4 linked regions of the Homo sapiens genome follow. The protein of the gene in region 3 purifies or fractionates together with the protein of the main gene of each other region. This does not show direct contact. Each region holds a gene or a part of one and is shown on either strand. Other genes may lie near its edges.

Evidence for each region.
Region 1: the proteins of HAVCR2 (region 3) and MYO1D purify together in Homo sapiens (co-immunoprecipitation; 3 studies listed by BioGRID and IntAct, with this or other methods). This does not show direct contact.
Region 2: the proteins of HAVCR2 (region 3) and ZDHHC5 purify together in Homo sapiens (co-immunoprecipitation; 3 studies listed by BioGRID and IntAct, with this or other methods). This does not show direct contact.
Region 4: the proteins of HAVCR2 (region 3) and AGPAT1 purify together in Homo sapiens (co-immunoprecipitation; 3 studies listed by BioGRID and IntAct, with this or other methods). This does not show direct contact.

What each region holds. Positions count from the first base shown.
Region 1 is NC_000017.11:32,874,114-32,881,160, forward strand, and holds the start of MYO1D (unconventional myosin-Id), read right to left. Parts: upstream 3,012-7,047; 5' UTR 2,760-3,011; coding exon 2,665-2,759; intron 1-2,664. UniProt on the Homo sapiens protein: Unconventional myosin that functions as actin-based motor protein with ATPase activity. Plays a role in endosomal protein trafficking, and especially in the transfer of cargo proteins from early to recycling endosomes.
Region 2 is NC_000011.10:57,663,722-57,671,127, forward strand, and holds the start of ZDHHC5 (palmitoyltransferase ZDHHC5), read left to right. Parts: upstream 1-4,392; 5' UTR 4,393-4,466; exon of another isoform or gene 4,467-4,875; intron 4,876-7,406. UniProt on the Homo sapiens protein: Palmitoyltransferase that catalyzes the addition of palmitate onto various protein substrates such as CTNND2, CD36, GSDMD, NLRP3, NOD1, NOD2, STAT3 and S1PR1 thus plays a role in various biological processes including cell adhesion, inflammation, fatty acid uptake, bacterial sensing or cardiac functions.
Region 3 is NC_000005.10:157,106,035-157,112,936, reverse strand, and holds the start of HAVCR2 (hepatitis A virus cellular receptor 2 precursor), read left to right. Parts: upstream 1-3,892; 5' UTR 3,893-3,953; coding exon 3,954-4,011; intron 4,012-5,974; coding exon 5,975-6,310; intron 6,311-6,902. UniProt on the Homo sapiens protein: Cell surface receptor implicated in modulating innate and adaptive immune responses. Generally accepted to have an inhibiting function.
Region 4 is NC_000006.12:32,167,685-32,173,086, forward strand, and holds the end of AGPAT1 (1-acyl-sn-glycerol-3-phosphate acyltransferase alpha isoform 1 precursor), read right to left. Parts: exon of another isoform or gene 5,254-5,402; intron 3,822-5,253; coding exon of another isoform or gene 3,813-3,821; coding exon 3,613-3,812; intron 3,387-3,612; coding exon 3,253-3,386; intron 2,917-3,252; coding exon 2,741-2,916; intron 2,577-2,740; coding exon 2,481-2,576; intron 2,433-2,480; exon of another isoform or gene 2,355-2,432; coding exon 2,282-2,354; intron 1,765-2,281; coding exon 1,592-1,764; 3' UTR 528-1,591; downstream 1-527. Other genes in the region: EGFL8 (epidermal growth factor-like protein 8 precursor), read left to right, coding at 226-272. UniProt on the Homo sapiens protein: Converts 1-acyl-sn-glycerol-3-phosphate (lysophosphatidic acid or LPA) into 1,2-diacyl-sn-glycerol-3-phosphate (phosphatidic acid or PA) by incorporating an acyl moiety at the sn-2 position of the glycerol backbone.

The sequences.
Region 1 (7,047 bases), on a different chromosome or scaffold from region 3:
CTTCCTCTATAAGGTGTTTTGGAGTCAACCTAAGGTATCTCTCTCTCTTCTGAACTTCCAGAACAATTTCTATAATTACTTGACAAATAATCACCTAAGCTTTATAAGGCTTTTATCTTCTCTTTCTTTTCCTTTCTTTTTTTCTTTTCTCTCCTTCCTTCCCTTCCTTCCTCTTTATCTGTCTCTGTCTCTCTCTCTCTCTTTGTGTCTCTGTCTCTCTCTGTTTTCTTTCTTCTTTTTCTTCTAAGAGACAGGGTCGTGCTCTATTACACAGGCTGGAGTACAGTGGTGTGATCATAGCTCACGGCAGCTTTGAACTCCTGGGCTCAAGCAATCCTTCTGTCTCAGCCTCCTGATGTTGTTTTCTTGAACTATTCTTTAAATCAATAGAAAATTCCACCTTTCTCCAGGTCTTCATTGAGATGTCACCTCTTCGAGAGGTAAGCAGCACATCTTGTAGTTCTTTGGATACTCCTAGCTTATCTCCTAGAGTACCTTGCACACAGTAGAATTAAATTGCAGCATTCGGCCGGGCATGGTGGCTCACACCTATAATCCTAGTGCTTTGGGAGGCCAAGATGGGAGGATTGCTTGAGGCCAGGAATTCAAGAACAGTCTGCTCAACATAGCAACTCTAAGGGCCCATCTCTAAAAAATATAAATATAAATATAAATAAATTGCAGCATTCTCTTCTGTACACATAGGAGTTGTTAGGCTCACCTTAGTAATCTATTTTGAGATTCAAACTTCACACTTAAGAGACTTAATGCTTTAAAAAAAAAAGCAGAAATTCTAAGTGCCTTCCCTCAATTTACTTTTTAAAAACCACAAGAGTTTTAATTCTATTACAGAGGAGTAGTCCTACAAACTAATGTAGCCCTGTTAGACTCTATGCCTTCAATTTCAAATTCTGAAAATTCTGCAAAAGCTCTGGCTAAGCCCATGTATTTGCTGGAGGTGAAAGATGGAGGTTAAAATGAAAGGCTTCATATTCAACTGTTACTACATGGTCTTGTATACAGTATGTACATAATAAATGTACCAATGTCTGAAAAACTGAAATGATTATAACTGAGAGTGACAAAATTATAAAGGCATTTCTCAAAGCACACAACTTATTTCCTGTGGGGGAGAGGAGTAGAATCTCTTAATTTAAAACAACCTTAATCTATGAAATTGCTATGTAACTTACCCCTTTATCTATTTTATGTGCACTTGGGAAAACTTAAAACAGTTTTACTAATATGGATTTGCCAGGCACTAATCTTTGAAGTATGTATACACATATTATTAATAATTCATTTAACCCTCAGGACAACCCCAATCCTACAGACGGGAAGACTGAGGCACAGAGAGGTTAAGTAACTTGCTCAAAGATCACAGCAAGAATGCAGTGGAACTAGAATTTGAATCTCAACAGTCTGACTCTTAATCACTATGATAATGGGTATTGGTTATAGCTGATGTAGAGGTATATCATTTTGATTAATATTTGGGGTGATTTCTATAAAAGTTGTACATCCAAACCTTGATCAGAAATGTAACATCCTATCATTATGCTGGTATGTAATCAACCTGATTGACCCCTGTCAACTGGATTGACAGGGGTAGTTAATAATGAAATTAGGGTTAAGCACCCAAGCCTAGATTATGACTTTCACTTTATAAGCTTAAGGAATGATGTTTAGCTATAAACCTTAGAAGAAATGCAGCCAAAGCTTGCAGGGAAACATACACACGCACACCAAAACTCAGCTATTTTGAAATTCCACTTACTTTAATGTTTAAGTCAAACTACTTTAAAACTGTTTACATATTACTCTATCAAGGGTGAAATAATCGCATGTAAAGGGCTTTCTAAAACAAATCCACATCTTGGAAGCCCATTTTGGGGCGTTGAGTTGTGACTACGTTCTCAAGGATGTTAATAACACAAGAGCTCCATCCACTAACTCCTTGAAAAAAACCAAAACCATGAACGTCTTGTCAAATTCAGACAGTTTATCTTGGCACTGGCAAGTACAGCAGTCTCTTCGATGTCTGGAAACGTGTCTAATTACGTTTAGAGAGTAACTAAAAAAATAGCCAGTGTCCCGGAACAGACAGCTCAGGGATCACTCCATAGCATCCTGAATGACAGGATGGAACTACGCCAGGAGGAAAAAAAAAAGAAGGGCGAAGAAAGAAAGAAAAGAAGCAAGTGTAAAGCCGGGATGAGACGCCAGCCTCTCTCCAAAATAATCCTCCAGTCCTCCTAGGGCCTTCGGGGCCACCGCAACTCTCGTTCAAGTTATTTCCCTTCAGTTTCCATGAGGTCACCGGCCCGCCCACATCCCTCACCTGGCGCGGGGAAGCGCGCCCTCCCGCGCGGCACACCCTCTGCACCTAAACCCCGGACAGCGCCCAGGGCTCCCCTCTCAGGGAAGCGCGGCCCTTGAGCTCGACACGCCCCCCGCACCCCAAAGCGGCCGCACCCCAGGGGCGTCCGCTCTCGGGAAAGCGCAGCCGCGGAGCTTGGCAGACCCCCGGACACCGCAGCCCGGCCGCGCCTCCATCCCTGGAGCTTGGGCGCTCCCGACACCCCGGATCCGGCCGCGCCCCGAGGCGCCCCCTCTCGGGAAAGCGCAGCCTCGCGCCCCTGCGCGCGGCCGCTCCGCCCTCACCTGAGCCTGAGGTTGGCCATGAACTCGGGCATGGAGACGGTGTCCATCAGCACGAAGTCTGCCTTGCCGAATTCCAGGCTCTCCTGCTCCGCCATGGCGCCAGCGCGGGGGCTCAGGTGGGCGCGCTCGGGCCTCCGGGGCCGCTCCGTGGGCCCGCGATGAGCTCGGGAGGGGCCGGGGCGAGGCCGCGCCGCGAGGCTACGGGGAGGGGGCGCGCACGCCGCTCGGCGGGTCCGGGCCGGACAGAGGCCGCCTCGCTGCTCCTCGGCGCCTTCTCGGCCGGCGCGGCTCCGAACGGGACGCACCCGACAGTTTCCGCTCCTCCCGCCGCGGCTGCCGGGCGCTGTAGGGGCCGGGACACCGAGACGGAGACGGCAGCGGCTGGTCCCGCCTCCAGCCTGGGGCTCGTCCCGGCTCCGCCCCGCCCGGGCCTCCCGGCTCCGCCCCTCCCGGCCCACTGAGGAGCCCGCCCCAGCCGCGGCCCTGGCCGCCGCCTCTTCACCTGGGCGGCGCGCACGCGCGGGTGGGCGGCGGGGACGCGCGCTGGGCCGGGCGGCGGCAGCTGGGTGGCAGCGCCCCCTGGGGACAGGCGCTGGGATCTCAGGCGGCCAAGAGGATGGCCGCCTGCCGCCCACACTTGGTAGCTGCCAACAAAGTTAGAAAAGTAGTTCGTGGAGCTTTTCGCGAGGACAATTCATTATGATTCTGTCACCCTGCTCCAAAACCCACTCCCGCCTCTCTACTCACACCCTGCCCATTCTTGAAGTGGTGGTTCAAGCACAGACTGAGAGGTAATAATAATGGCTAACATTTTTGGGGCACCAAAAATGCCCAGAGCTGTTCTCAGCGCCTTAGAGAACTTTTAAGAAACTTGCCATACGACTAGGAAGTGGAGCAGCTGCGGTTTCACGCAGGTCATTTGACTTAGGAGCCGCAGCGTTCAACCACGTCTGACTACCTCCATTCTTCAGTGGCCCATTTTCTCTTCCACTCATCCGAGCATGTCATCAGACATTACCTTATATGATTATTAAGTTTTTAATATATCTTTGTATCATCTCTCCAGGATTATTGCGGATGTCTTGAGCATGGGACCATTCTTTTTGCATCCACCAAATAACTATTGTACTACTTTGCATATATAAATATGAAATCCATACTGGTTCAGTGGAATGAAGTGAGTTGTAAGTAGTCTCCAATTTATTGATACATTGGTTGAGCTTGGAAAATTCTTTTTGAACTCAATGTATTTTCCCAAAGAAAATATACTACAAATGACTTTCTTTCTTTTTTTTTTTTTTTTCTTTTTCTGGAGACAAATTCTCCCTCTGTCACCCAGGCTGGAGTGCAGTGGTGCAATCACAGCTCACTGCAACCTCAAACTCCTGGGCTCAAGCAATCCTCCAGCCTCAGCCTCCTGAGCAGCTGGGACTACAGGTGTATGACACCATGCCCAGCTATTTTTTTTAAATAAATGACTTTCTAAGGTATCTACATTTATTCAGTCCTGTGTTTCTGTTAGGACATCTTCTATTACAAAATCTACGAGGAAATCTAGAGGCCTCCAAGGACCTGGCTGGGCTTCAACTCTGGCTGAGTTTGAGATGAGTAAACCAGACTGAAGGACCTTGCCCAAGGCCTGCTTCAGCTGCCAGCCACCCACACTTGCTAAGAGAAAGGAAAGGAGCTTTGTCACCTCCTGAGGGACTGCCTCTGCCATCAGAAAACCACCCCAATCCCTGGCACCAGCAGAGCTGGGTTGCATCTGACTACCGTTAGCAGCTGTCCTTCAGAAGGAGGAGATCCACCTGTCTCGATATCAGTGTCCTCATTTGTGGAATAAAAGCTCTGGAATAAGGTAGGACTGTCCTATGGTTGGGTCATTTGTGGAGGTGTCGGTCAGTGGCTAAGTAGGTTATTGCATAGGGTATGGTTGTATTCCTAATGTTTGTATTGGCATGTTTTAACATAAGCAGAACTGAACTTCAAGAAGGAAAGAAAGAAATCTCAAACTGTATGCACTTTGGAGCATCCAGGGACCACACCCCAAAACCTTTTGGTAAATTATATATGTGTGTTCCCTGAGCTCTGTAGGTGTTAAAAATTAGGGCAAAATCCCAGGTACCAGGAAAAGAAACATCACGGCTTGCAGATGATGAGAGAGTTGCAGAAATTGTACAGTGGTTAGGAGCTATGGTGGGATACAATGTGGTTTCCAAATGGCCAAAGTAAGAGATCCTCATTTTAATCAACATCTTATATAGGAACCCAACATATAAAACACATATACAACATATGCAAAGGGTATTTTATTAATTTCTTGTATAAGTCCAAATTAGTATAAAATTAGGCATTGATGCTCTCATGATGAACCCAAATCTGCTCAATGGGGCTCACTATTAGCCTCAGGATTCCAGTTTACTTTTGTATGTTGTTTTCATTGTACTGTGTCAAGCAAATTCTTGTTTGTATAACTAAGCAGTAATTTGTTACCCATACAACTTTACATTCAGCATTTCTAGGCCAATGTGCAGTTACAACATTATTAATCAATGACACACTTGAGCAAAGTTCAGGTATATGCACAGCCGGCAGGAGAGACTGAATACTCTGGTCTGCATTCAGTCAAGGTAACCTAGAGCAGATTAGCTCATTATGAATGTTCTTTGTGATAAAATTTGAATAGAAACACATTTGGAGATGCATGTTTTTGTTACAGTTTAAAATATACAAAAAATAAAACAAATAAAAGTTTATATCCCCAATCATGAGACACACAGACACCATGAGCCTCCTGATATGGTCTCCTGAAAAAGACACATATCATTTACCTGCTAAAAATACGTAAATGGAATCTAATCATGAAGAAGCATCAAACAAACTCACATTAAGGGGCATCCTACAAAACAATTGACCTGTATTCTTCAAAAATATCAATGATGTGAAAGACAAAGAGGCTGAGGCACATCACTATTAAAGGCAATGGGTGATTCTGGACTGGATCTCCAACCAGAAAAATGTAAAGGACATTGTTGGGATAATTGGTGAAATTCAAATATAGACGCGATGTTAGATAGTAGGATAGTATCAATGCTAGTTTTTCTGAACTTGATCATTTTACTGGGATTCTGCAAGATAATGTCCTTGTTTCTAGCAGGTATCTGCTAAAGTATTTAGGAGTAAAATGATGTCTCGAACTGTTTGGCAAGAATAATAAAAATAATAAGATGAGGAGGTGGAAGGAGGGCGTGCATATATATTGGTAGACATATAAATGATTAAAGCAAATGATGCAAAATACTAACAAGTGGTAAAGTCATTAAAAATATATGGGACTTTTGAGGGGATTTTCTTTTGTACTATCCTCACAACTTTTCTGTAACTTTGCAATTAGTTTGAAATTTATTCATTTATTTTGAGACGGAGTCTTGCTCTGCCGCCCAGGCTGAAGTGCAGTGACACGATCTCGGCTCACTGCAACCTCCGCCTCCCGGGTTCAAGCGAGTCTCCTGCCTCAGCCTCCTGAGTAGCTGGGACTACAGGTGCATGCCACCATGCCCAGCTAATTTTTGTATTTTTAGTAGAAACGGGGTTTCACCATGTTGGTCAGGCTGGTCTCAAGCTCCTGACCTCATGATCTGCCCACCTCAGCCTCCCAAAGTGCTGGGATTAGAGGTGTGAGCCACCACACTCGGCCTGAAATTTAAACTTAAAAATTAAATAGTAATCTAAAACTGTGCTAAATAAAAATTTTTAATTTAAAAATATTAAATAACACTTAGAAATCAAAGTCACATCAGAATTTTGCAAACCTTCCAGAACTGAAGAACCAGCAGATATTTTTGAAAACCCTGGTCCAGGGTACCTCTTAGCTCTATTTGGCATAGATGTGCTAGGAGATTATAAACACTGAACAGGTAATTCTAAAAACAAAAATAATTAGATGTCAAATATACCCATATGCCCCTGAGAAGGTGCATCCTGTTCTCTGCCTGAAGTTCTCCCCGCCACCCCACCCCTCACTCCTATGACCTAGCTAACTTCCGCTCATCCCTCCGCTCTCAGTCTCAACATCACTTCCTCCAAGAAGGCTTCCATAATCTCCTGAGTCAGAATTGGCTGTTCCTCCTCTGTGCCTCCTGCAGCATCCTGGAAGTGCTGCCCCCATTACAGTACTAAATGCCCTTGAGCCTACTGTCTGTCTCTCTCACTCGTTTGTAAGGGCCATGAGGGCTGGAAGCTGTCTTTTCTGGTTTTTGATGTAAATGTAATTCTGGCACCTCCTAGCATAGTGCTAAGAGATGAAGTGCTTAATAAACTGTTGCTTGATAAATGAATATGGAATGGTCTGTGAACCTATGGGTCATAAAATGTGAGACTGTA
Region 2 (7,406 bases), on a different chromosome or scaffold from region 3:
TCTTAAGAGCAATGGGAACCAGAGGGGAGGGGTAGTTAAGTAGAGTAATTATTTGATCTTTTTTTTTTTGGGGGGGGACAGAGTTTCATTCTTGTTGCCCAGGCTGGAGTGCAATGGCGCAATCTGGCTCAGTGCAACCTCCACCTCCCAGGTTCAAGCGAGTCTCCTGCCTCAGCCTCCCGAGTAGCTGGGATTACAGGCATGCGCCACCATGCCCGGCTAATTTTGTGTTTTTAGTATAGATGGGGTTTCTCCGTGTTGGTCAGGTTTGTCTCCGACTCCCGACTTCAGGTGATCCGCCCGCCTAGGCCTCCCAAAGTGTGGGATTACAGGCGTAAGCCAGCACGCCCGGCTGATCTCCTCCCTCCCTTCCCTCTTTCTTTCTTCCTTTCCTTTCTTTTCCTTTCCTTTCCTTTCCTCTTTCCTCTCTCCCTCCTTCCTGCTCTCTTTTTCTTCTCTCTTTTTTCTTCTCTTTTTCATTCCTTCCCCTTCCTTCCTATTCCTTCCTTTCCTTTCCTTCCCTCACCTCCTCTCCTCTCTCCTCCCCTTCCCTCCCCCTTTCCTTCCCTCCTTCTGAGTTTTGCTATGTTGCCCAGGCTAGAGTGCTGTGGCATGACCTCGGTGCACTGCAACCTCTGCCTCCTGGGTTCAAGTTATTCTCCTGCCTCAGCCTCCTGAGTAGCTGAGTAGCATGCACCACCATGCCTGGCGAATTTTTGTATTTTTAGTAGAGATGGGGTTTTGCCATGTTGGCCAGGCTGGTCTCGAACTCCTGACCTCAAGTGATCCATCCGCCTCGGACTCCCAAAGTGCTGGGATTAGCCTGGCTGATTACTTTACATTTTGAAAAGATCACTGCTTTGTGGAGAGTGGGTTATAGGGCAAGTGTAAAAGCAAGGACAGTAATTAGGAGAGTTTTGTAAAAGTGCAAATGTGAGAAATGGTGGGGGATGAAATACTAGGGCAGCAGAGGTAGAGCTGGTGAGAGGATATTCTGAAGGCAGGACTTCATAACGGAGTGGTGAGGAAAACGATGGAATCAAGGATGCATCCTGGATTTTTTTTAACAAGACACACTAGGTTAGACATGAGATTGGGAAAACTCAGGGAGTTGTCCCCCTGAGGGACAAGGGAAACTCGAGGTTTTTGGCAGTGTTAAATATGAGCTATTAATTGTCCATGGGTGGCGGAGGTTGCAGTGAGCTGAGATCGCGTCACTGCACTCCAGCCTGGGTAACAGAGCAAGACTCCATCCCCCAGCACCAGAAAAAATGCAGGAGCGAAGGAGATAGGATCCACAGCACAAAGGGAAGAACTACCCTTTAACACATACAGAGACATTTCACAAGGACAGGAGGAAAGAGCAGTATTTAAACACAAAGAGGTTGACCAGGAGCAGTGGCTCAGACCTGTAATCCCAGCACTTTGGGAGGTCGAGGCAGGCAGATCACTTGAGCTCAGCAGTTGGAGACTACCCTGGCCAACATGGTGAAACCCTAAAAACACAAAAATTGGGAAATGCATGTTCTAGCTTTCTGTGTGCTTAGGTGCCCATGCTACTGAGGGTCTAAGTCCAGGCAGCCGAAGAGTGTGGTGAGCAAGATGAACAAAGATGCGCAGATGAGAGAAGCCATTAACATATTAAAGTAATTTAAAGTTTGGGTGGTCTGGATATCATACTGTTTTAGCCTAGATTTTACTCTGGATACTTTTCAGAAGTAGCTGGCACTTTAAACCATATGTTCTATTAAACGTTCTTTCCAAGAAATATCTTGAGTGATCCCAAGGAAAACTGGACAAGTGGAATCTCTGTCTTTCAACTTTGGGATAGTGATTATACCTCTGTTAGTGCTCATCCACCTAACAAAGCTTGGCAATCCAAGTTAGTATCCCAGGGGAGTTTAGTTTGGTTGGATGGTGGAAGACTGATTTTTTTTTTCCATTTAGCACTGTCTAGCCAAGAGACACCACTATTTACAAGTTCTTAGACAGCTGAAAGGAAAATAAAAATGCCTAATTTGTGGAGGAAATCAGGAAGTCTAAAAATCCAAGAAAAATATTGCAACAGAAAAATGAAAGCTGACTTCATCTTAAAGAAACATGGCTTACAGGTAGAAAATGCCAATATCAGGCCGGGCACTGTGGCTCACACCGGTAATCTCAGCACTTTGGGAGGCCGAGGTGGGAGGATCATTTGAGGTCAGGAGTTCCAGACCAATGTGGCCATCATGGTGAAACCCCATCTCTACTAAAAATACAAATATTAGCCAGGTGTGGTGGCACATGCCTGTGATCCCAGCTACTCAGGAGGCTGAGGCATGAGAATTGCTTGAACCCGGGAGGAGGTTGCCATGAGCTGAGATCGCGCCACTGCACTCCAGCCTGGGTGACAGTGTGAGACTCCCTCTCAAAAAGTAAAAAATAAAATATCAATATTGTATCTTCAATAATTTACCTTTCATATGGTCTAAAGAGGTTTTTGTTTTGTTTTGAGACGGAGTCTTGCTCTGTTGCCCAGGCTGGAGTGAAGTTGTGTGGTCTCGGCTCACGGCAACCTCTGCCTCCCGGGTTGAAGCAATTCTCCTGCCTCAGCCTCCCGAGTAGCTGGGATTACAGGCTCCCCCGACCATGCCCGACTAATTTTTGTATTTTTAGTAGAGGGAGTTTCACTATGTTGGCCAGGCTGGTCTTGAGCACCTGACCTCGTGATCCGCCTGCCTTGGCCTCCCAAAGTGCTGGGATTACAGGTGTGAACCACCACGCCAGGCCAGGTCTGTTTTAAAAATATAAAGTCGTTATAAAGAACTCTCAAGTGTGTTGCAATAAATGCTGGATTGACGCTGTTAACAAGAATAAACTAGAACTTATAATATATGCCATGTCAGAGAAGGAACTAGATTCCAGAAAACAGAAGGTAGTTCTCTTTTACCTTACTGCCTAATGCTAGTGTCAGAACCACAGTAAAGCCAGCAACATTTGAGACCAAACCCGAGGACAGTCCTCAGGATTTTACAGGTGAGGGGCCTCGGCTTCAGGGAAGTGGCTTGTGAAACACCTTTTTGAGGGACCATTATGTAATAGCTAGAGTTGCTTTCGAAAAAAGAAATAGCCTCGAGCCGAATGGGGAGAGAACATGGGGCATTGCTATTGGGTTCACAGCTGTCTTGGGCTAATCAGGGCAAAGCGTAGCACTATGACCTATGCAGAGTTAGCTCGCCAGGGACAGTAGCTATTCTAGAGAACCTTTTGCTTTTAGCTTTGTATTCTAGGATTGGGTGAGGTGAGGGATGCGGGCGCCCATCCCACGTGTGACAGTGGGAAACTAATGGAATTCAGGGAGTTCACTTCCCGGCTCGCACTCCGGGGGCGGGAGGGTGCTGCCACCGCCTCAGGTCGCGCGCTCCTTAGGCTTCCCTCTCACGGTTAGCGCTACGGCTCCAAGGCTGGCGCCTGCTCTTCTTCATCTCCCTCCCCGGCCCTTGGCAGGAGCCTCGCCCTACATTGGCTCTTCAAGTCCGGGCGTCCCCTTCATGTGGGAGACACAGCCCAGACCATTCCATCGCCCTGGATTCTGCCCGGACCAGCGACCTCGCCGGACTGAAGATTTCTCCAGCAAGATTGTTTTAAATAAAGTTTTTGCCATCAAAAAAAAAAAAAAAAAAAAAAAAGGAGATGGGAAGGAGAAGAGGGAGGCCTAGTCGCCAAATGGTTGGCCAATCCGCCGCGAAGGGGCTGAAGCAGGAAGCGGCGATAGTCGTCGGTAATTGGCTGCGCTGGAAGCCTGTCTGGACTGTACCACCTCAGTAGGAGAGGGGTTGCTGAATTCGAGAAGGTAGCTGCTTGCTTTTGAGTACTTCTAGTACACACACATAATTCTTTTCTTATTTCCGGGGGTTTTTGCTTGGATTCAGTGGGAATACAACAGGACGCAGGAGAAGGGAAGACTCGCCTGGCCATTTCCTCATTCCTGACTCCTGTGCATTAGGCCAATCCTTGTCTCTTAGTTGTCCCCGCAACCCCACGGCCTTACGTGCGCGCTCTCGTCTTCTCGCGTGCGTACGTCGTTGTGTTGCTGCAGCCAATCAGGCCGCGAGGTCGCCGCGGTCGCCAGGGTTCGCGCGCACGCCCCAGATCGGAGTCGGGGTGGGGGCTATGGGTGAATGGGAGAGTGAGCGGGGTTGGGCGCGGCAGCGCGAGCCGCATGAATGAGACAAACGTGCGCCGCGCGAGACGTCGCGCGAGCCCGGACTAGGGAGCCAATGGGAACGCTGGAAGGGTTCGAGACCCGGCACTGAGGGCAACGGCCGCGCGCCGGCTCCGAGACGAGCGACGCCTGGCGGGAGCGCGCGGCAGCGGGGCGGGCGTGGAGCGTGCGGGGGCCGCGCGCTGCTTCTCTGAGGCAGGACGGCACTGCCGGGAGGCGGCGGTGACAACGACGGCGGTGGTGACGGGCACCGGGCTCGCGGGTGAGTGCGGAGGACACCGGTCCCTGCGGAACCGGAAGTGCCGTACCAGCGAGGTGGGAGGGGAGGGTGACCTCTAGGGAAGGGGGACCGAAGACGGGGAGGGTATTAAGGCCCTATTTCTCCTCCGGGCCGGGTCTTCCAACCGCGGCGGGACCCATGGGCCTTGGAAACGGACGACGAGTAGAGGCCGGGGATCCACGACCGCCAGGGCTCGGAACGGGTTAGAGACGGCCACTCAGCTCGAGACCGCGGTCCCCGGTGCCTGGCGCCCAGCCGCCGCCCCTTCCGCCCCCGGCCCTGCGCCCTCGGGCTCTGCGGTCCCCGCAGCCCGCTCTCTCAACCTCGGTGGGCCTGGCCGCCGTGGATTCCTTCTTTTCGGTTTCAGCGGTCGTCAGCCCTGCCCCAACGGGTGATTCTCCTTTCCCCAGTCCCGTGGTGGGGACCGGGTGCTGTTTCCCTTTTACCGCTCTGCGGTTCGAGTCCCTCGCTCCACTCTGCTGATACTTATTTTGGCTCAAGCTTCATCCTGTTACCTGTTCTCTCTCACCCGTCCGCTTCCTCCTCCTACCGCCACCAGCCGAGTGCTCCATGCGTTTAGTACTTTGTACTTTTTAAAGTGGAGCCCGAATGCGTTTGTCAATATTTTACCTATATTTGGGGCAGGCAGGTGGAAAGTGTTTTACCCACTTGGCCAAATGAAACACTGAAATAAGAAGTAAGAAAGTTGCTAAAAGTTAGGAAGGCAGTTGTAGGATCACATATACGTTATACGCTAGACTATTTTTTGCCTTGGATTCTTCACTTCCTGGTTAATGCCATCTTGACCAAGTTGATCTAACATTTGCATATCATCCTTCTATCTCAGTATACCTCTGTCCTGGATCAAATATCTTCAGAATGCTCATTATCACCCATTGTATAAACTTAATGTTTACAAAATTATATTGCCATGTATTTTGCTACCTCGGTATATAATGATAACACCCACATTAAACTTCTTGGCTCTTTCTCCCATACCTTGACATGTGAATTATTCCATGGTACCTCCATTACTGTGCATTTAGATTTACTCTATTGTACTGTTACACCGCTTATTTCAACAAAAAATAGTTGTGTTGTCCTTGGTACTGCTGGTATCCACCTATTTAAGGAAATACCTGTATTAAACCTTATTAAAGCCTTCAAACCACATATCCTGTATTGTTTGTTTTACATATACATATTTCCATTTCATAGTTTACTCTGTGCCTCAATATGGCATACATATTACTTTTTTTCTCATTTTTGAGACGGAGTCTGGCTCTGTCGCCCAGGCTGGAGTGCAGTGGCTGCTATCTTGGCTCACTGCAACTTCCACCTCCCGGGTTCAAGCGATTCTCGTGTCTCAGCCTCCCTAGTAGCTGGGATTTCAGGCATGCCCCATCACGCCCTGCTCATTTGTTTGTATTTTTAGTAGAGACAGGGTTTTGGTATGTTGGCCAGGCTGGTCTCGAACTCCTGACCTCAAATGATCCGCCCGCCTCGGCCTCCCAAAGTGCTGGGATTACAGGCGTGAGCCCCCGTGCCCAGCTGGCATACATATTCTTGTATACTTTTTTGATACTAGTATGGATTCAAACTGTTGACTCTGATGAACCATACTCACCCTTGTGGTTTCATCCTAGTATCTGCAGCACATTCTTTTGCTAAGAATTGGTTCATCTTTATTTATACCCAATAAATTGTTAGGTTTTTGATTTCCCTTCTACTGTGTAGCCCCCAAGCATCTCAGATGCTGTTCTCTTTTGTGTTCCCAGTATTATACTCCCAAAATTGCATGGCCTTTCATGACTCTGTATTACTATGTCAATATTAGTCCATGTGACTTTTTTCCTGTGGAAAATATATGAAACAATATATAGTATCTAAATGATATTCTACTCTAGATAAAATTTAAGTAGTATAATTTTCCATCTTTTCTAGTCTTTGGGATTTTGAGGGAAAAGTTTGCTTTAATAGTACATATTGGCTGGGCAGAGTGTCTCACACCTGTAATCCCAGCACTTTGGGTGAGGAGGCAGATCACCTGGAGGTCAGGAGTTCGAGACCAGCCTGGGCAACATGGTGAAACCCCATCTCTACTAAAAATACAAAATTAGCTGGGTGTGGTGGTGCCCTCCTGTAATCCCAGCTGCTCGGGAGGCTGAGACAGGAGAATTGCTTGAATCCGGGACTCGGAGGTTGCAGTGAGCTGAGATCACACCATGCACTTCAGCCTGGGTGACAGAGGGAAACTGTGTTTCAAAAAAAAAAAAAAAGTACATATTGTCTACAAATCAAGAGTTTGCTTTTGTTAACAAAGTTACTGAGGCCTACATTCCAAATGTTAGGCTTCCATTCCTGTAGGAAACTGAGAGTTAAATAATCATTAAATCAGGGACTAGAGAGGATTTATGTTTTCTAGGACTATAACAGTTTCTTAGAATCTTTTGGCGCTCACTGTATTCTAATACTGCTGTTTGGCCCTCTGAAACCCTAATTTTAAAGAGAGAAATGAATCGTAAGGGAAGGCACCTTTGCCTTCCATGCCATAGGTGAGAGAGGAAGTGGTACATTATAGGGCACATTTATATTTTGTTATCTGAATCTTCTGATTTTTTTTTTTTTTTTTTTGAGACAGAGTCTTGCTCTGTTGCCCAGGCTGTAGTGCAGTGGCTCACTGCAACCTCCGCCTCCTGGGTTCAAGTGATTCTCCTGCCTCAGCCTCCTGAGTAGCTGGGACTACAGGCGCCCGCCCGGCTAATTTTTGTATTTTTAGTAGAGAAGGGAATAAAACTACTTTCTTTTAAAATTCTAACTTAAAATTTTTGGCTTGCAGATTCCAAGTTATCATCTCTGGGCAGGTAGTGGATGAAAAGGTAGAAAGGGTTTGTGTCACCAGAGGGGCATGTGACCTCTTGA
Region 3 (6,902 bases):
TCAGGGAGATTTGGCTATAGACTGAAGTACTAGGTGCTTCTAAGGCATCATTAAATTTGTTATGTGCGATAATGATATTATGATTATATTAGCAGAATGTCCATTTTTGTTTGTTGGTTGGTTTGTTTTGAGACGAAATTTTGCGCTTGTTGTCCAGGCTGGAATGCAGTGGCACAATCTCGGCTCACTGCAACCTCTGCCTCCCTGGTTCAAGCGATTCTCCTGCCTCAGCCTCCCAAGTAGCTGCGATTACAGGCACCCACCACCATGCCTGGCTAATTTTTTGTATTTTTAGTAGAGATGGGGTTTTCACCGTGTTAGCCAGGCTGGTCTCGATCTTCTGACCTCAGGTGATCCACCTGCCTCGGCCTCCCAAAGTGCTGGGATTACAGCCGTGAGTCACCACACCCGGCTTCAGAATGCCCATTTTTTAAAAAGGAAGATTGCACACTAAAGTACGTAAAAGTGAAATAGCACGATGTCTGGGATTCGTTTAAAAATATTTCAGCAGACTCGGCATGGTGGCTCACACCTGTAATCCCAGCACTTTGGGAGGCTGAGGCAGGAGGATCCCTTGAGCCCAGGAGTTTGAGACCAGCCTGGGTAACCTAGTGAGACCCTTGTCTCTAAAAATAAATTAAAACAAATTTAAAAAAAAATAAAGGGCCAGGTGCGGCGGCTCCTGCCTGTAATCAGCAATTTGGAATGCTGGGACGGGCAGATCACCTGAGGTCAGGAATTTGAGACCAGCCTGGCCAACATGGTAAAACCCTGTCTCTACTAAAAATACAAAAATTAACCGGGCATGGTGACAGGTGCCTATAATCCCAGCTACTTGGGAGGCTGAGGGGAGGCAGAGGTTGCAGTAAGCCGAGATAGCACCATTGCACTCCAGCCTGAGAGACAAGAGTGAAACTCCATCTCAAAAAATAAATAAATAAATAAATAAAAATAAAATAAATAAAATAAATAAAATTTTAAAAATAAATATTTCAGCAAATAACAATAGGAAAATGCAAGTTTCAAAAAAGGTATATGGTATTTTGTCTAAGAAAAGAGAGTATGAGAATATATATTTTATTTTCTTGGGTTTGCATTGGGAGTATACACAAGAAACTTATGAAAATGAAAACCTGGTCGGGTGCAGTGGCTCAAGCCTGTAATCCCAGCACTTTGGGAGGCTGAAGTGGGCAGATTGCAAGGTCAGGAGTTCGAGATCAGCCTGACCAACATGGTGAAAACCCATCTCTACTAAAAATACAAAAATTAGCTGGGCACGGTGGCAGGTGCCTATAATCTCAGCTACTCAGGAGGCTGAGGCAGGAGAATCGCTTGAACTTGGGAGTCGCAGGTTGCAGTGAGCTGAGATCGTGACGCTGCACTCCAGCCTGGGTGACAGGGCGAGACTCTATGTCAAAAAAAAAAAAAAAAGAAAACCTATAGCATAGGTGGGAGAAATGGGGGTAAACATGGAAGGATGGGATCATGGGATCAAGGCTTCTTGAGCTTTTTATATTCCTTTTACTTTTTAACTATTTGAATGTATTATCTAAAGTTTTTAAGAAAATAAACAGGAAATAAAAGTTAAGTGAACATGAAAATGTTCAGAACCAGCTCCCTACACACACAAGAGAGTTAAAGGAGATCTCTAGACCCCTTCATATCTAGACTTTAATGAACTAATAAATTGTTAATGTTTTATAAAGCTGGTCTCAGTAGCAATTCTAGAAATGAGCAGAAAACAAAGTGGTAAAAACAAAACATCGCTGGGCACGGTGGCTCATGCCTGTAATCCCAGCATTTTGAGAGGCCGAGGCAGGTAGATCACCTGAGGTCAGAAGTTCGAGACCAGCCTGACCAATATGGTGAAACCCTGTCTCTACTAAAAATACAAAAATTAGCCGGGCATGGTGGTGTGCGCTCTTAGTCCCAGCTACTTGGGAGGCTGAGACAGGAGAATTGCTTGAACACAGGAGGCGGAGTTTGCAGTGAGCCGAGATCGCGCCACTGCACTCCAGCCTGGGCGACAGAGCAAGACTCTGTCTCAAAACAAAAACAAAAACAAAACAAAACAAAACACAGAAACTGAGGGCTGATGCTTTTAAGAGCCTTGACCAAGTTCATGCTGCTAATAAAAATAACCCCAGACCCCATATTTAATCTATTCTACCTTATGCTTGAATATGGTCATTTGCTGGTTATTAGTTATGTGGGAAGACAAACATTAAATTAATAAAACATAATTTATAGTGGAAAAAATCTGTCACTTAGGGGGCTTATGCTCTCATTCTAAATCACCAATCATGTGCCTTTCGGCAAATCAATTTTCTGAAGTCTCAGATTCCTTGTCTATAAAATGAGAAATTGGCCGGGCGCGGTGGCTATGCCTGTAAACCCAGCACTTTGGGAGGCCGAGGCGGGTGGATCGCCTGAGGTCGGGAGTTCAAGAACAGCCTGACCAACATGGAGAAACCCCGTCTCTACTAAAAATACAAAATTATCCGGGGTGGTGGCACATGCCTGTAATCCCAGCTACTCAGGAGGCTGAGGCAGGAGAATCACTTGAACCCGGGAGGCAGAGGTTGCAGTGAGCCGAGATCATGCCATTGCACTCCAGCCTGGACAAAAAGAGCGAAACTCCATCTCAAAAAAATAAATAAATAAATAAAAATAAAATAAAATAAAATGAGAAATTGATTATGATCTCTTGAGTAACTGCCACTCTGCAATGCTATGGGAAGTACACACATTGAACAAGTTGCATATTTATATTAAATGCCATTTGTTTATATTGAACAAATTTGGTATTTATACCCAATGCATTTAATGGCATAAATGTGAATGACAAAGAAACTCAGGAAGGCAAGACATAGAGGAAGGCCACTGGCTTTTCAGAAACCACTCAGCCTGTGAGCTCACTTCCCTTTTATAAAAAAAAGCTTTTGCTTTTAAGGTGTCCAGATAAAGGTCACACTCCCAGAGCTGAGGCTACGTGAGTCTAAGCTGTTACCTCAGTTATGGGAGTGTGGCTGGAACTCAACACTTTCTGATCATTCATGGCCAAAGCCTCTTGGGGTAGGGGAGAGGGGGCACCTTGTATGCATGAGATGAAACAGGATACCAAGATCCCCTTAATTCTACTCAGAGTAGAGGAAAGGAACTGTTGCCAAAAGGAACATGTTTTTTCTAAATTGAAGAGTTGGAAGTTTGAAGGTCAAAGTCAGAATATTAGAACAGAGAGCCATGCATGTATTATCTAATACAATTTTCTCATTTTATAAATTATATAAATGAGGAAACTGAGACTCAGCAAGGTTATAGGATACAACCTAATCTGTGTTAGAAGAAGGATGAGAGTGAGGCTTATGCTGGGAGTTGCTATGGTCTGTAAATGTGAGGATAAGGAACATGCCATTCACTGTTGTGTTCCACTTCCTAGTCCAGTGCCTGGTGCAAAGTAGGGGCTTCATAAACTTTGGTCACAGGCCTGATGAAGGGACTGATTTGAGTGAATGAATCCATGGATGATGCATCTGTACTTTGTGTTCCCCGCTAGTCAGATGGACTCGGACATGCTCCATTTCAGGTGTATCTCATCTGAGACATTATTAGAGGGTTCTCTTTATGTGCCATGACTGAGTAGCGTTTTCTTCCACTGAAGTATTGCTTCCTCTTTGTTGATATCACAGGACAGACATCAGAACACTTACAGGATGTGTGTAGTGTGGCATGACAGAGAACTTTGGTTTCCTTTAATGTGACTGTAGACCTGGCAGTGTTACTATAAGAATCACTGGCAATCAGACACCCGGGTGTGCTGAGCTAGCACTCAGTGGGGGCGGCTACTGCTCATGTGATTGTGGAGTAGACAGTTGGAAGAAGTACCCAGTCCATTTGGAGAGTTAAAACTGTGCCTAACAGAGGTGTCCTCTGACTTTTCTTCTGCAAGCTCCATGTTTTCACATCTTCCCTTTGACTGTGTCCTGCTGCTGCTGCTGCTACTACTTACAAGTAAGTCTCGGCATGGATATTTACAATGACATAATGGTGCTGTACAGAGGACAAGGGAGAGATACAAGGATGGCCATTGTAATGTTGTTTGTAATAGCAAAAGCTTGGAAGCAACCTAAATGTCCGTCGATGAGGGAGTGGGTAAATAAATGTGATATAATCATGATACAAACAGTGAGTCTGACAAAACATACTGGTATAGAATGTCTCAAAATTATAATGTTATTAAAGAAAAAAAGTTGCAGAATAATGCATATATTAGGCTTCTATTTGTGTGTGTGCATTGTCGGGGAGCAGGAATATGTGGACATTTCTTAATGTATAAGCTCTAGGAAAAGGAACCAGGGAATGGTAAAGAGTTGGGAGAGTAAGGCATATTTTTCTTTTCTTTTCTTTCCTTTTTTTCTTTTTCTTTTCTTTCTTTTTCTTTTTTTCAATTGAGATGGAGTCTCACTCTATTGCCCAGGCTGGAGTGCAGTGGTGGCACCATTTTGGCTCACTGCAATCTCCGCCTCCCAGGTTCAAGTGATTCTCCTGCCTTAGGCACCGGAGTAGCTGGGATCACAGGCGTGCACCACCACACCCAGCTAATGTTTTTAATTTTTAGTAGAGACAGGGTTTTACCATGTTGGTCAGGCTGGTCTCAAACTCATGGCCTCAAGTAATCTGCCCATCTCAGCCTCCCAAAGTGCTGGGATTACAGGCGTGACCCACCGTGTGCCCGGCCACTTTTTCATACACCTTTGATAGTGTTTGAATGTTTTTACTGTAGTTGAGTCATATGAAAACAAAGGGGACATAAAAAATCAAAAGAAAATATATAATGAATGTTTTATCATATATAAAATATATATAGTTTTTTTTTAATGGAATTAACTTTGTCATTTGAGGAAAATGAGGAGACAAGTCTCAATCATTTTAGGAGATTTGTTTGCCAAAGTTAAGGAGGCACCTGAGAGACAGGTCTATGACTTTCTCAGAAGATGATTTTGAGGGCTCCAGATTTAAAGGGGACAAGGTGGGATATTGAGAAGCACTCAGTTTTCACATAAAAAAGGGGGGGGGGCAGAGGAAAAATATGGGGAATCTGCATTTTACATTAGATAACACAGACAAAATGGGGTAGGGAAACAATCAGATAACGCATTTGTGTCTGGCCAGGGTGACCGCACCGGTAAAGATGAGCTATCAATCTGCATTGCACAGCTGACCAGGAATTTCCTTGTGGGCAAAATATGGGGGAGGTATGCAGCCTTTCATCCTGTAGCCATCTTATTCAGGAATCAAAAAGAGGAGGCAGGTTTCTGTGACCCAGTTCCCAGCTTGACTTTTCCCTTTGACTGAATGAGTTTGGGGTCCCAAAATTTAATTTCTTTTCACAACTTTAAACCTTAAAACAACTCCATGAGTAGTTTCAAATACACAAGATCCTTATTTAACCAAGGGTTTGTATTTACTGTGCACTTGCTGCTTAAAAAGAGAAGTATGTTAGGAGAGCCTCCCTTTGTTGATGAACAAGCAAGTAGCCCAGATGGGCGGGCCGTTTCCTGGCTGACCATGACTAATTTTCTGATTGTCTGTTTCCATCAGCCCTGTTCTCCCGTGTTCACAGAATTGGGCCACAATTCTCTCCTAGGGCAGTGTTTCTGAAAGTGAGGTTCTGAGACCAGCCACTTCAGCAACACTTGAGAACTTGTTAGAAATAAAAGTTCTCAGGCTCTACCACAGGCCAACTGAGTCAGGAACTCTAGCAGTTGAGCCCAGCAATCTGTGTTTTCGCAAGGCTTCCCAGTGATTCTGATGGCCTTCACATCTGAGAAGCATTGTCACAGCGAATCATCCTCCAAACAGGACTGCAGCAGTAGCTTCCTCTTTATTCTGTAAGACATGGCTTGCAGTTTTCCTGAAATGGAGTAACCTCACTCACCGCTTGAGTCTTGGCTCTCCTTCTCTCTCTATGCAGGGTCCTCAGAAGTGGAATACAGAGCGGAGGTCGGTCAGAATGCCTATCTGCCCTGCTTCTACACCCCAGCCGCCCCAGGGAACCTCGTGCCCGTCTGCTGGGGCAAAGGAGCCTGTCCTGTGTTTGAATGTGGCAACGTGGTGCTCAGGACTGATGAAAGGGATGTGAATTATTGGACATCCAGATACTGGCTAAATGGGGATTTCCGCAAAGGAGATGTGTCCCTGACCATAGAGAATGTGACTCTAGCAGACAGTGGGATCTACTGCTGCCGGATCCAAATCCCAGGCATAATGAATGATGAAAAATTTAACCTGAAGTTGGTCATCAAACCAGGTGAGTGGACATTTGCATGCCATCTTTATGAATAAGATTTATCTGTGGATCATATTAAAGGTACTGATTGTTCTCATCTCTGACTTCCCTAATTATAGCCCTGGAGGAGGGCCACTAAGACCTAAAGTTTAACAGGCCCCATTGGTGATGCTCAGTGATATTTAACACCTTCTCTCTGTTTTAAAACTCATGGGTGTGCCTGGGCGTGGTGGCTCACACCTCTAATCCCAGCACTTTGGGAGGCTGAGGCCGGTGGATCATGAGGTCAGGAATTCGAGACCAGCCTGGCCAACATAGTAAAACCTTGTCTCCACTAAAAATACAAAAAATTAGCCAGGCATGGTTACGGGAGCCTGTAATTCTAGCTACTTGGGGGGCTGAAGCAGGAGAATCACTTGAACCTGGGAGTCGGAGGTTGTGGTAAGCCAAGATCTCGCCATTGTACTCCAGCCTGGCTGACAAGGGTGAAACTCTGTCTCAAAAAAAAAAAAAGAAAAGAAAAGAAAAGCCAAAACTCATGGGTGGAATGTATAGATGGGATGAAAGGCCTAGATCAGTGGTTAGAGACCCTGACTCTCATTAGAATCACATA
Region 4 (5,402 bases), on a different chromosome or scaffold from region 3:
CTTCTATTCCCCAACTTTCCCCAAGACCCCTCTCCATTCAGGCATTCCCTCTTTCCTCCAAGCCCCTCTCCAACATTCACTATCCTCATGCCTCTCCACTTTACCATCGTTCTCTTCTGAAATCCTGTCCCCAGCCCAACAGTTTCACTTATTGTTTGGTGAGAGTGGCAGTGTAGTCCACTCCAGGCTGACCACAGCCACTGTGTCTGCCATGTCATTAACCAGGCTCCTGTGAGGACAACAGCCTGGGCCTCGGCGTCAATCATCGATAAGAAGCCTCTACAGCACCCCTGCCCCCTAATTTATACAGAAACCGGACCCACTAATCCTCTGGGATTGGCCGACTGTGAGCTGCAGATAAGGCTATCAGCCACCAAAGAGCAATGAACAATGGAAACTTCAGAGAGCTGAAGAAAGGGGGAGGCCTGTGTTCTTGGCCTGCCCCTGAGTCTTCTGGCTGGGGGCAGGTTGCCTGGGCAAGAACTGCTTCTTCAATTCCTTAACAAATGCAACCACCAACACCCAGATCTCTCTCTCTCTTTATTTTCAGTTTTTTTGCTGTTATCCAGATAATTAATAAAAACCAACCACGCAAAACTGGGTCCCACCCTCTCCTTTTGCTCCCAGCCTACCTCCCCAGTTGTGGGAACAGGTCTGGAGTGAGAGGCAGGGAGTGGCTAATGCCACCAGGAAGAAATGAAAACTGGCTCAGAGAGGGGGAAGCCTCAACAGAAAAAGAAATAAATTAAAAGCCCTCCTATCCCCTCCAGCCAGGGTTCGTTCCTTTCCCCAACTCCCCAGGGGGCAGAAGTGAGTGCAGCACCTGATGTCTGCTTCTTCCCCTTGTGTCTGGTGAGATGGTGCAGCAGGGCTGCAGGGGGCTGGGTGGGGTCATGTCCACTGAAGAACTGTACTATGGGGACAGAAAACCAGAAATGTGGAGACTGAACTGGTATCCCAGAGAGTGCACGACCCTGGGCATCTGGGCAAGGGCAGGCATGAGACCTCTGAATTAGAAGGGTCCAGCCCCCACTGACAGGAGGCTACACTGGGAGGGAAGGTGAAGGTGCTGAGGAAAGCTCCCATGATGAGCCTGGGAGTGCTTCAGGTATCAGCTTCCAGCCAGAGGGCGAGAAGTCCTCCTCACAAATGGATGAGTCCATTGAATCCATGGACTTTGGAGTGGGGGGGATTTGTTCCAAAGAATGGATGAGTCCACTGGCCAATGTGGGGTAGAGGGGTAGAGAAGACCACATAGGAAGAGACTCCACTGGGGATGGAATGTTCCCCTCCCTTGTGTAGGCTGAGTCACTGGAGATGAGGGGGAGGCAACTGTCCCACAGACAAGACAGTAGGAGGTGGGGGTCAAGAGTGGAGACTGCACCGAGGCAAGAGTCCATGGATGGGGCCAAGAGGGGGCAGGAGTGGCGCTGTATCCACATTCACTTCAGAAGTTGAAGATTCCAAAGAGGAGAATAAGTGGGGAGAGGGGAGACAAGGAAGAGGGTTTGGCCCTGCTTCAGGGCCCACTGGGTGGGTAGGTGTGGGGAGGAAGATGGGGACAGATGGGAGGAGAGCTCAGAGCCAGGGTTCACCCACCGCCCCCAGGCTTCTTCAGATAGTCACCACCACCCCGGCCATCAGTGGAGATTTCCCGGAAAACAGTGAGCATGGAGTGCCGGACTCTGTCAGCCAGAGCTGGGACGTCATCTGGTGTCAGCCCTTCCGTGGGCACTGGGGGCAGCACCCGCACCTGACATTGTCCTGGGGCAAGGGGAGCACCATCATGGCCTGTCCACCCAGGTCTTTGCCCACAGGTGGGGCCCAGCTTCCGAGTGATACTCTTCCTCAACCTTTCAGTTCTCTTCCCCCAACCCTGGACAACCATCCCTGGGCTTGCCAGCTGCCACTTCTGAGGCCCTTCTCCTATACAAAGCCTTCTCCAATCCCCAGTTCAGACATCTCCTCAGCACCCCTCCAGCCCCCCTCCTCTGGGTTTGGCATTTACTGCTGAATGAGTGTTATTCATTACAGCTTTGTGCACACAGGCCTTATCTTTCCTGTTAAGATTAGTAACAGCCTCTCTTGGTGGGACCAAGTGCTACCCATCTGGCAGGGTATGGTGGGTGCTTAGTAAAGACTTATTGGCTGATGTGGGGTTAGACTAGATGACTGTGTAGACATCTCATGGCTCTGACACTGAATGATCCCCCTGCCTCACAGGGATGTCCTCCCAGCCTCTCCGGACACACCCTACCCCAGAACTGCTCAAAGCCCTCACCCGAGGTGAAGCGACGCTCCTTCTTGCAGTAGAAGTCTTGGTAGGAGGACATGACTATGGGGACAATGGGAACCTGGGGAAGGGTTAAAGCAGGTCAGTCCACAGCTCTCTTCAGAGACTCCTACAATAAGCCCCTGCCCAGAGATGAGGGAATGGTGGGGGTTGGCAGCTGAGTAGCAGAACGAAGAGCAGTAGTCACCTGGGCCTGCACTGCAAGATGGAAGGCGCCACGTTTGAAGGGCAGCATGGAGCCATTGTGGTTTCTCGTTCCCTCAGGAAACACCCAGACCCTCACCTGGGGGAGAAAGAGGGTCAAAGAAGACAAATACATATGGAGGAGTCAGAATAGGTGTGATGTTATAATGGGACCTTTGAGGCCCACTGGCCCTGCATATCAGTTTATTTACAACTGTTCTACTCTGTATCCCTCCAATCCCCCATTTCCCCAGGATGACTCACGTCCTGGGTGAGCAGGGTCTGGGCGACCTCAGACATGACACTGATGGCATCCCCCGTGCGCTTCCGGTCGATGAAGATGACTCCTGCCAGCCAGCAGGCCAGCCCGGCAGAGCCAGCCCACAGTAGCTCGCGCTTGGCAATGGGCACACAGCGGCCTGGCAGTACCTCCATCATCCCTTGGGCAGGGTGGGAGTGGGTGAGGATCGGGGTGGAGGCAGAGTGTCACAGAAGGCAACCCACCTCACCCAGCTCATCACCCTCTGGTAGGGACTGGAGGTGAAGGAGGAGACTAGGCAGGGAGGGGGGCCCCAAGTGAAGGAAAGGGTGACCAAAAGTATATGTAACCTGCTTATGAGGGCAGTTCTACCCAGGGAATGAAGGCCTGAGTGGGAGGCAAGGGGGCAATGTCCCAGAGGAAGGGGAATTGAGGATCTCTAGGAGAAGATATTCTAGGGAAGGTTTCAGGAGGGGAGGCATGGCTGGGGGAGGTGTGCCCTGTGGTGGGGTCTCACCAAGCAGATCGAGAGAGCTCTGGTGGTTGGAGACAACAACATAGGGCTGCGAGGGAGGGAAGTGGTGAGCCCCTCGCACCTCCACTCGGATCCCGTACAGGTATTTGATGTGGAGCAGCATTAGACGCAAGATCCTGTGGGGTCATGGCAAGGGGTCCCAGTGGGATCCATTGATGTCCATCTGCATGCCTCAGCTCCCCCCACCTTACTGTCTTTCTGACCACCTTTGCAGTCCTCTCCCCATTCCCTGTCTCTGGTCTCTCTCAGTCTTTTCTACACACACCATGCCCCCTTCCCCCAATCCACTACTCACTTTGTACCCTTAGGTTCCCTCATTGCCCAAGACCCCTTGCCCCTCACTTCATGTTCTCGACGTTGCGTCCTCGCACGGCACACACAGGGATGGCGAGCACAGCCAGGAAGAGGATCCAGCCATTGTAGAAGGCCATCTTGAAGAAGTACTTGGCACTGGGGCTGCAGAACCACAGGGTGGGCAGCAGGAAGAGCAGCAGCAGGAAGAGCAGCAGCAGCAGCATCCATGCCCCTGGCCACAAATCCATTCTGGCCACCTGCAGGGGATGGGGCAAGGGACAATCAGCCTGGTTTCTGGAGGAGAGTGGGGTAGGCAAGGCACAGAAGGCAGGGCTGGGGGCTGGTGCTATGAGGACAAGGGCCTGAGACACAAACTGGGGCAGGGGTCTCATTGAAACCTTCCCAGGAAGGCTCTCTAGGATGAGGGTGGTGGAGAAAGAGCTCAGGACTGCTCTCCCACCACTCTTCCCAAAGGCTCCGGATATATTCAGACAAGAGACACAAGACACAGACATCTACAATTCACAGATACCTGATAATAAATGACAACAAGAATAATAGCTAACACTTGTAGCTGGTAAGGGTCTTATAATGGTCTATACTTGTGCTGTCCGAGAAAGTAGCCACCACCTACATGTGGCTACTTGAAATGCAGCTAGTCTGAACTGAGATGTGCTGGAAATGTAAAATACACATCAGATTTCAAAGACTGAATAAAAAACAAAATGTGAGATATCCATTACTAATCTTTTATGCTGACTACATTTTGAAATTATAATCTTGGGCCGGGCGCAGTGGCTCACGCCTGTAATCCCAGCACTTTGGGAAGCCGAGGTGGGCAGATCACGAGGTCAGGAGTTCAGGACCAGCCTGACCAACATGGTGAAACCCCGTCTCTACTAAAAATACAAAAATTAGCCGGGCCTGTTGGCGCATGCCTTTAATCCCAGCTACTCGGGAGGCTGAGGCAGGAGAATCGCTTGAATCCGGGAGGCGGAGGTTGCAGTGAGCCAAGATCACGCCACTGCACTCTAGCCTGGGCAATGGAGTGAGACTCCATTTCCAAAAAAAAAAAAAGAAATTATAATCTTTTGGATGTTATCAGATTCAAGAAAATATATTACTAAAATTAATTTCACTCTTTTTGCCTTGTAAAAATGTGGCTACCATAAAAAAATTACATTGTGGCTTGCATTATATTTCTGTAGAACAGTACTGGTCTATACATTAAGTTAAACTCTTAAAATGATGCATATGATAGTCTAGAAAGTACTATTACTATTTACATTTTATAGGAAATAGGCCCAGGGAGGCTAAATAACTTACCTGAGGTCATACAGCTCCTAAACAGCAGTTTCTAGGTTAAATCTAAGCCGCCTGTGTTCCTAACCACTCCATTACGCTGACACTGGTATGTATTGCATATATATATACGAACACAGCACACAGCATATATGGTGATTGTGACAGAACACTCACAGCCATATACCCAAGGGCCAAATGGCAAGATTAAAAGTTCGTGTCACTAATGCCAACAGACACACAGTCATACAAAGACTAACATGTTCACACATAGACACAAATTTATAATTACACCCAGTGACAGATAAAAGAATGTAAATGCATAACTAGAAAAATCCCTCTCCACCCAGGCAGCTCCCCTATTCCTAGGTAAACTTATGGACATACCTGGAATAGCTACAAAGACCAATCCTACCTCCAGACAGGCAAACGAATCCTACTACCCTTTCCCTTCCTTCTAGTGACACTTTGCGTGGGCAGGTACAGTGTGTGAGGCCTCACCAAGTGAAAAAAGGAGGGAATGGAGTAAAGGTGAC